2 linked regions of the Homo sapiens genome follow. The protein of the gene in region 2 purifies or fractionates together with the protein of the main gene of each other region. This does not show direct contact. Each region holds a gene or a part of one and is shown on either strand. Other genes may lie near its edges. The genes, in order: NCALD and SSX1.

What was found.
Region 1: the proteins of SSX1 (region 2) and NCALD purify together in Homo sapiens (affinity purification with mass spectrometry; one large-scale study listed by BioGRID and IntAct). This does not show direct contact.

What each region holds. Positions count from the first base shown.
Region 1 is NC_000008.11:101,784,408-101,788,223, reverse strand, and holds part of NCALD (neurocalcin-delta), read left to right. Parts: intron 1-2,171; exon of another isoform or gene 2,172-2,369; intron 2,370-3,816. UniProt on the Homo sapiens protein: May be involved in the calcium-dependent regulation of rhodopsin phosphorylation. Binds three calcium ions.
Region 2 is NC_000023.11:48,253,982-48,258,493, reverse strand, and holds the start of SSX1 (protein SSX1), read right to left. Parts: upstream 3,103-4,512; 5' UTR 3,062-3,102; intron 2,444-3,061; exon of another isoform or gene 2,358-2,443; intron 1,273-2,357; 5' UTR 1,253-1,272; coding exon 1,184-1,252; intron 749-1,183; coding exon 634-748; intron 1-633. UniProt on the Homo sapiens protein: Could act as a modulator of transcription. Plays a role in spermatogenesis.

The sequences.
Region 1 (3,816 bases), on a different chromosome or scaffold from region 2:
AAAAGGTGATAGAACTGCACTGGACAAAACCCATCACCCCATTTCCACATTCGGTTCCACCGCATCGGATTTTATTCTTCGAGTGTGTGAATTTTGCAATGTTCTCTAAATTCTGCATGAAAAGGAATAATATGTTCACATAGCTACCAAATTGTAACTTTCTTTTATTTTCCTCCTTGAGATCCATTAACAACAGTCTTATGTCCCCTGGATTGGGAAACCCTTACCTGGTTAGACAGGGGTTAAGAGGAAAACTCATAGTGTTAGTACAAGTTATGCGAGTTAAAACCATGGGCCACAGAAGGTAGTTCATGTGCTCATAGCATTTGAAGCAAGCATTAAAGAATGCATGTGGCTTTCCAGCTTAATGTAAAGCACATACACGTGTGAATTGATCAATTGTCATGTTAATTCCAGATACTCAAGAGAGAGCCCTAAAGGTTTATCTGACAGAGGTCTCTAGGATGAGGCATGTTTGAAATTAAGCTGGAAGTGGAGACACTTCCCAAGTATCTGAATGCAGAACCTTATTTGGCTTATTGGATATTTAAGACCAATACAGGGGGTATTAATAGTATTGTTTAGTGTGACTTATGTAAGTAGTTGTCTCATTCAACATGTTTCTTTAAATGTGCAGAAAATAGTGCCTGATATTCCTCTCCAAACCAACAGCGTAACTTTGCAGTTGGTCAGCTGCCGTCACAGCCCTATATTCAGAATGTCCAAAGTCATCCTTTCTATGACATCAACACCCACTGTCTCCGCGTAAGAGAATGGGAGCTATGACATTTTGCACAAGCTGTTGTTTAAATTCAATCCAAATCCCTCGCATTTGAAATGGAAGCTTAGCAATTTGTCTTCGTGTGTTCTCAAAGGAATTACGAAAGAGATGTTCTCAAACGTTTCTTATTCTTTGGATTAGAAAAGAACACTTGCCTTGGGAGCTTTGAGTCTCTAGCAACTTGATAAAGAAACTTGGAAAAAGTTTAAAATCTCTGACTCCAGGCTGTACTGTTTGCTTCTCAAGCCAGGTGTTTGAAACTTTTCAAAAAGGAATGTGCCATTATTTTTCATAAAATCCACATTTATTTAACTGGTGCTTCATGATGGAAATCTAACTAGAAATAGCATTCCAAAATGTAGTATTTTTTATTGTTTTCAGAAGTGATACCATAAAAGTTAATGTTCACTAAGATTTTGATATAAAAATTATATGATAAATATTGAAATTCACTGGAGCCAAACTAAAAACAGTCTGCCCTTTTTATCTCAGTAGTGAACTTTAGGGGGTTTTTTGCATGTATTTTCATAAGTGCCTTTAAATAAAGACACGGCATCCCTTTAAAATTTAGTTTACATTAATGTAAACCAGAATATTCTCAGGTCACAATGCAGTTTTATATTTGATTTGTAGGAAATAAATCTCTAGCCTGAAAGACATTCCAGCTGTTGCCTGTCTTCATGGGAGGATTGTTCACATTTTCTGAATCTCTCCCAGTGACTGCAGGAAGACCAAAGGCTGCACATTGCTTTTATGCAAGGATGAATTTTTTTAAAAGATGATTTTGGATTTTGTTTGCTTTAATGAATTTAAGCCCTATCTATTAGAGGTAAATGTCAAGAAAACTGTTGTGTTCTTTGGCTATCTGCTCTGCTGACTCCCACAGACTTTGATATGATTCATATAACTCAAACCATGATCAGGTTTGTGACGACCATATTTACAATATCGTTGGAGATCAAAAATAGCATCTCACAAAAGTTTCCCCGTCCTATACCTTCCCACATCTTATCATGGATCATGTGCAGCACAGTCACTCAATTGGCGAACATTTATTAACGGACTACTGCATTCACAGTATTATAGTAGGCATGTGAGGTCCTCCCCTGATGGGATCCTCAAGTGAGATATGCTGCTGGCATAGAGAACCCAAGGGCCTTTATGGACCCTGGCTTTTGTTTGCTTGAGCTTTTATTCAAACATTCAGTCTTTCATGCATTCAGCAAATTTTGAGCACATACTACGTGTCAGGCATTGAGCCAGACCCCAGGGTTGCTATAAGGTACAAGACAGGGCAGGTCCCTTCCATCATGGAATATGCAGTCTAACTATGTAGAGAACTTGCCCAGAGACCTATATGTACTATTAACTGGGGTTCTCTTTCCCACAGCCACACTGGCCACTGCAGTCCAAAAGAGAATTCTAAAAGGAAACAGTACAAAACAGAACATCAAAACAAAACAGACAAACAACCTGGGAACCATTAGGTTTTACACCAGAGTGAAACCCCAGAAGAGACATTCTGCAGCTGGTGAACAGCCGGCCTCATTTGTGAGCAATCTGTTCCCATCAGTGTCAGGGATTCCAGGTCGGTATGCTCAGTCCTATTCCCAGTTGGCCAGAGGCTATTTGTCCTCTAGTTCAGAAGACAAATGAGACTGGTAGGGACCGACCTAGAGAGTATTTTCTTTTATGCAAATACCCTGTTTCATACAAATAATGAAAACCATTGTATTTTATGAAAGGAGTCTTTAAATTAGTGATATTTCCAAAAATATCTCTCCCGTCTTCCCTGTACTAACCCAGTCAGGACAGGGTCACTGCTGTAATAAATAGCCCCCAATCTTAATGGCATAATCCAACACTGTTCATTTTTCACTCACCCAGAAATCAGGATTGGGCGAAGGGCTCTGCTCCACACAGTCCTCCAGGGACTCAGGCTCCTTCTATCTAGTTAAACTGATCAGGGGCCTGTTTCTACCACTTGCTAGTGATACTCTGAGCAAGTTACCTAAATCAGAGTTTTCTTATGTGAATAATATTAGGGCATCCCTCTTGGATTTTTGAGTCAATTTACTTGGCATAGAAACTGACAGGTATTAGGTACTCAATAATGTGAACTGCTGTTATTAATCTTCTACTTCTGGTAGTGCTGCCACCACCATCCCCCGAGGAGGCAGGAAGAATCCGTCAGAATTGGAAGAGTATTATAATAATAGCTAACACTTAGGAAGCTGGATAGTCTTCAAAGTTCTTTTCAAAGTAACTATTTTTTAACAACATTCTAGTTTTATAAATGAGGAAATTGAGGCACAGAGAGCTTAAACAAATTGCTGAGTGTCACACAAGTATACAATAGAGCTCTAGGCATTTGGCTTCAGAGTCCTGGCTCTTTATTCACTATACTATATTGCCTTTCAACTTGGAATATACAGCAGAGCCTCAAATACCGTCATTTCATTCAACATCGTTTTGTTGTAATGTTAATGAGAAAAAATAATTGGTTTTGTTGTCAATGATGTTGTGAGGACTTACTATTATATATTGTATTTTCCCCAGAATTAATGTTATATGTTGTGGCAGATTGTATTCAAAAATAGCCTTACAATTGAATCCATTACCACATTAAAAAAATTTTTTTTTAGAGATGGGTTCTCACTCTGTTGCCCAGGCTGAAGTGCAGTGGTGTAATCATAGCTCACTGTAACCTCAAACCTGGGCTCAAGCAATCATCCCACCTCAGCTGCTTGAGTAGCCAGGACTATAGGCGTATGCCACCATGCCCAGCTAAATTTTTGTTTTTATTTTTATAGACTTGGGGTCTCACTATGTTGCCCAGGCTGGTCTTGAACTCCTGTCCTCAAGAGATCCTCCCACCTTGGCTTCCCAAAGGGCTGAGATTACAGGCATGAGCCACTGCATTACCATATGTTCTTCTAGAATCTTGCTCCTCTCCATCAGGAGGTGAAGTCTATTGCCCCTCCCTTTGAACCTAAATGGGCTTATGATTGGTCCAACTGATAGAGTACAGTGGA
Region 2 (4,512 bases):
GGCCTGGCATGGTGGCTCATGTCTGTAGTACCGGCACTTTGGGAGGCTGAGGCAGGAGGATTGTTTGAGGCCAGGATTTCAAGATGAGCCTGTGTAACATAGAGAGACCCCCATATCTACAAATTATAAAATAAAATTAGTTGGGCATGGAGGCATGTGCTCATATCCTCAGCTACTCCATCGGCTGGGCAGAAGGATTGCTTGAGCCCAGGAGTTCGAGGCTGCATTGAGCTATGATTGCACTACTACACTCTAGCCTAGGTGACAGAGTGAGACTCTGACTCAAAAAAAAAAAAAAAAAAAAAAAAGGGAGAGAGAGAGAAAGAGACAAGCTGAGAGGAGGAAGGTAGGGTGGGAGGTGTGCTGCAATGCCACAGAGACAGCTGGGCTGATCAGAACAGACGCCTAAGGGAGAGAAAAGTGCAAGGTCCAGGTACAAGCTCCACTATGGCCAGTCCCTGCCCTCAGCTCTGACAGGATACAGAAGAGCAGAACCCCCAGAAGCTGCCTTGCGATTTTTCCCTGCACAAAAGGAAAATGTGGGGTACTTTCTGCAGCCTAAGAAGTAGCCAAAGCAGGAAAAGGGATGCTCATGTATCCCCAGACTTGTCTGTTCCTAGAACTTTCTGTTACCTAGTTTAGTCATGGCCTTATAGTTTCTCTTCATATACACATAGCTGATTTTCTCCGAGTATTTCATCTTTTTCCACTCTTTCTTAGAGAAGTATGTGGCAATATCATCAAAGGCCTAAAAAAAATAAAATAAAATTTGTCAGTGACTCAGCTAGGTATGTCTGCCATTCAGCTGGAGCCGCTTCCTGTGTGCTGGATCTGGGAAGTGAGGATGATAATCCGTCCTGGTTGATGCCATGGCTAACTGAGAGACCATGGGGGACCTACCCTAGCTTCTCCCGTGGCACACATTAGGGCTTTAATGCTGCTGTCTGGCTCTCTTCCCACCTTCCAGAATGGACTGAGAGTTACCAAATGTAGAGCAAGGTCAGAGACTTGTCTCCAGGGATGCTAGGTGATGACAGAACACAGGTGGGAGGCTCCCAAGGGTCCAGATCTCCCCCGAGACCCTGCTCCTTGTCCCCAGTACCTCTGTCCTCCCCTCCTCAGAAACCTGGTCACCCTACTCTGTCCCCTGGACCACTGCTCTGCCCCCTCCAGGTCACGTCACCTTGCTTCTCTTCTCTGATGCTTTAGCATCATCCCTGGGTCTCTTTGCAAAGGTGTCGTCTCCGTTCATGGCACCAGGAGCAGTCTCACCTGCAAGAGAAACAGCCTGAGACTTTCTAGCTACAGGACCCTTGGTCCTATGGAGGGAGAAATCAGTGAAGCCCGGCCACACTCAGTCACCTGGAATTAGGGGTTGCATTTCTCCATTCGGGGCTTACCTGTCCATGGGTAAGGACATGGAGAGAAGTCAGATGAAAACAGGGAGCCTGGAGTCTCTGGGAGAAGTATTGCTTGGGGATGACAGGTTTCCTAGCAGCCTTGAGTCTTTGGGAGGGGGTTGGCTAGTGTTGTTAGTAGTTTCCCTGGGGCTAGGCTTACCCTGAAAGATGTACAGACCCTTGCTGGGGAGGCAGGGACGTGACTGTGTAATTTTATTGAATGGGGGCGTTCTGACACCCCCACTCAATAAATAAAGGGAGGGAAGTGAGTCCCAGACATAACGTGGTCTTTCTGGTGATGGATCTGATCAGGCAGAGGGATGGGGGGGTTCTGTTCTGTTGAAGAGAAATGACCTTCACTAATATGAACAGATTTAGAAGCTATTACTGGGTTATTTGTAAATTATTAGAAGGAAGAGAGCTAGAATCTCTGAGATTACAAGAGCCTGCCATCACTTAGAGAAAATGTGGGGTGTTTCAATTTGCAGCAATCGGCCAGGCGCAGTGGCTCATGCCTGTAATCCCAGCATTTTGGGAGGCCGAGGCGTGCAGATCTCTTGAGCCCAGGAGGTTGAGACCAGCCTGGGAAACATAGCAAACCCCTCATCTCTACAAAAAAAAAAAAAAAAAAAAAAAAACAACCACACAAAAAATTAGCTGGGGGCGGTGGCACAGGCCTATAACATCTCAGCTCTTTGGCCAAGGGGGGGCGGATCGCTTGAGCCCACGAGGTTGATACCAGCCTAGCCAACCTAGAAAAACCCTCTACTAAAAAAAATAAAATAAAATAAAAAGTATTAGTGGGGGCGGGGTGGTGCTCGCCTGTAGTTCCGAGGCCGAGGCAAGAGGATCTCTTGAGCCCAGGAGGTTGAGGCCAGCCTGGCCAACATAGCAAAACCCCATTTCTACTACTAATAATAACAACAAAAATAATAACATCAGCGAGGTGGTTCTTGCCTGTAGTTCCGAGGCCGAGGTGGGAGGATCACTTGAGCCGAGGAGGTCAAGCCCAGTTCGGCCAACATAAGGAAACCCTGTCTCTACTAAAAAGAACAACAACAACAAAACTAGCAGGGGCGGAATGGCACACATCTGTAGTCCTGAGGCCAAGGTGTGAGGATCGCTTGAGCCCAGGAGGTTGAGGCCAGCCTGGCCAACATAGTGAAACCTGGTTTCTACTAAAAAAAAAAAAAAAAAAAGCATGGGCAGGATGGTGCACTTCTGTAGTCCCAGGGCCGAGGCGGAAGGATTGCTTAAGCCCAGGCGGCAGAGGCCAGCCTGGCCAACATAGCAAAACCGTCTGTACTAAAAAAATAAAAAATAAAAAAAATTAGTGAGGGTGGGGTGGTTCGTGCCTGTAGTCCCGAGGCCAAGGCGGGAGGATTGCTTGAGCCCAGGCGGTTGAGGCCAGCCTGGTCAACATAACAAATCCCCGTCTCTACTAAAAAAAAAAAAAAAAAAACAGGGGTGGGATAATACAGGCCTGTAGACCCAAGGCCGAGGCGGGAGGATCCTCCATGATGATCGTCCTGAAAGGCATTAGTTGTCTTTCAGTCCTCAAGATTTTCGGAACCCCAAGCACTTGACGGCCCTACAGAGGCTTCCTCCTTTTCTATCTGCCCCGATTAGCCCATCTAGGGTGTCCCTTAAAGAGAACCTACTTCAGAGACAAAGCAGTGGTTGCGAGGTCGGCAGCAGTGGTGGCGAGTTGGCAGCAGTTGGTGACAAAGTGTGGCTGGAGGAGGAGAAAATATTCTGCAATGTCATTGCTCCAGGATGATGGACCAATCAGGGCAGTTAGTGAACTCCATCTGGCCAATCAGAAGTCAGAACAGTAGGCGGGACAAGCCAAGCTGATGTGGGGTCTATCAGTCTAGGCTCTAGGGACAGAACCTTCTCAAAATGGAGGCAGAAACTCTGACTTTCCCGCCTAAAGCATCCCCTGGGATTGGCTACTCCAAGTTCAGAGTACGCATGCTCTGATTTTCTCTTTGGAGTCTTCCCAAATCAGAGTACGCATGCGCTGATTTTCTCTTTTCATTTTTCCTATCCCTCCCCACCTCCTCGGTGGTGCATTGTTATCCAGTTTTAATAAGGAGTGTATATGAAGCAGGTCATCATCTCAAATCCTTCCTGTCAGTTTCTATCTTTTTCAGGTATGGGATTTTTTCCTAGGAACTCTGTAGTGACGTAAGAAATTTGGGCCGGTGCGGCGGCTCACGGTTGTAATCCCAGCACTTAGGGAGGCCACAGCTGGAGGATCACTTGAACCTGGGAGGCAGAGGTTGCAGTGAGCCATGATCATGCCACTGCACCCCACCCTGGGCAACAGAGCAATACCCTGTCTCTTTTCTCTACAAAAAAAATAAATAAAATTAGCGAGGTGGGGTGGTGTGCCTGTAGTCCGTTACTCAGGAGGCTGAGGTAGGAGGATAGCTTGAGCCCAGGAGTACGAGGTTGCAGTGAGCCATGATCTGGCTACTCCTGCCTACCTGGGCCACAGAGCGAGATCTTGTCTTTAAAAAGAGAGAGAGAGAGAAAGAGAAAGAAAGAAAAATTTCAATGAGCCAGTCCCAGTGGCTCATGCCTGTAATCCCAACACTTTGAGAGGCTGAGGCAGGAGGTGGAAGGATCACTTGAGGCCAGGAGTTCCAGAACAATCTGGGATACATAGTGAGACCCCCATCTCTATAAAAAATTTTTAAAAAAGAAATTTAAACAAAAAAAAACACTTCTACACTTCCATATATGTTTTTTTCTAAAAGACCAAAGAAGCAGAAATATATTTTACCCATTGATATTAATAATATTTATAATAATAGTATTAAAAAGAGTATGTAATTAGGGCCCACTGTGTTCATCAGGGAGCTCATAAGTCAATTTGTCTAAGAAGTTTCCCCTACCCCCATCCCTAGTACCTCCAACAAGTCCCCATTCCTCTCTGGGCTTTCCACCTACAGCCCTGATCTCTCTAAGATCCTCCCAGGATTACAGCAAGCTCTCTTAGGGCAGGAACAGAGCAATGGCCCTTGAGCCCAGCACAAAGCCTTTTATGTGCATCTTCCCATTAATTTTCACAACCTTCTCTGGAGTTAAATACTATTATCATCCC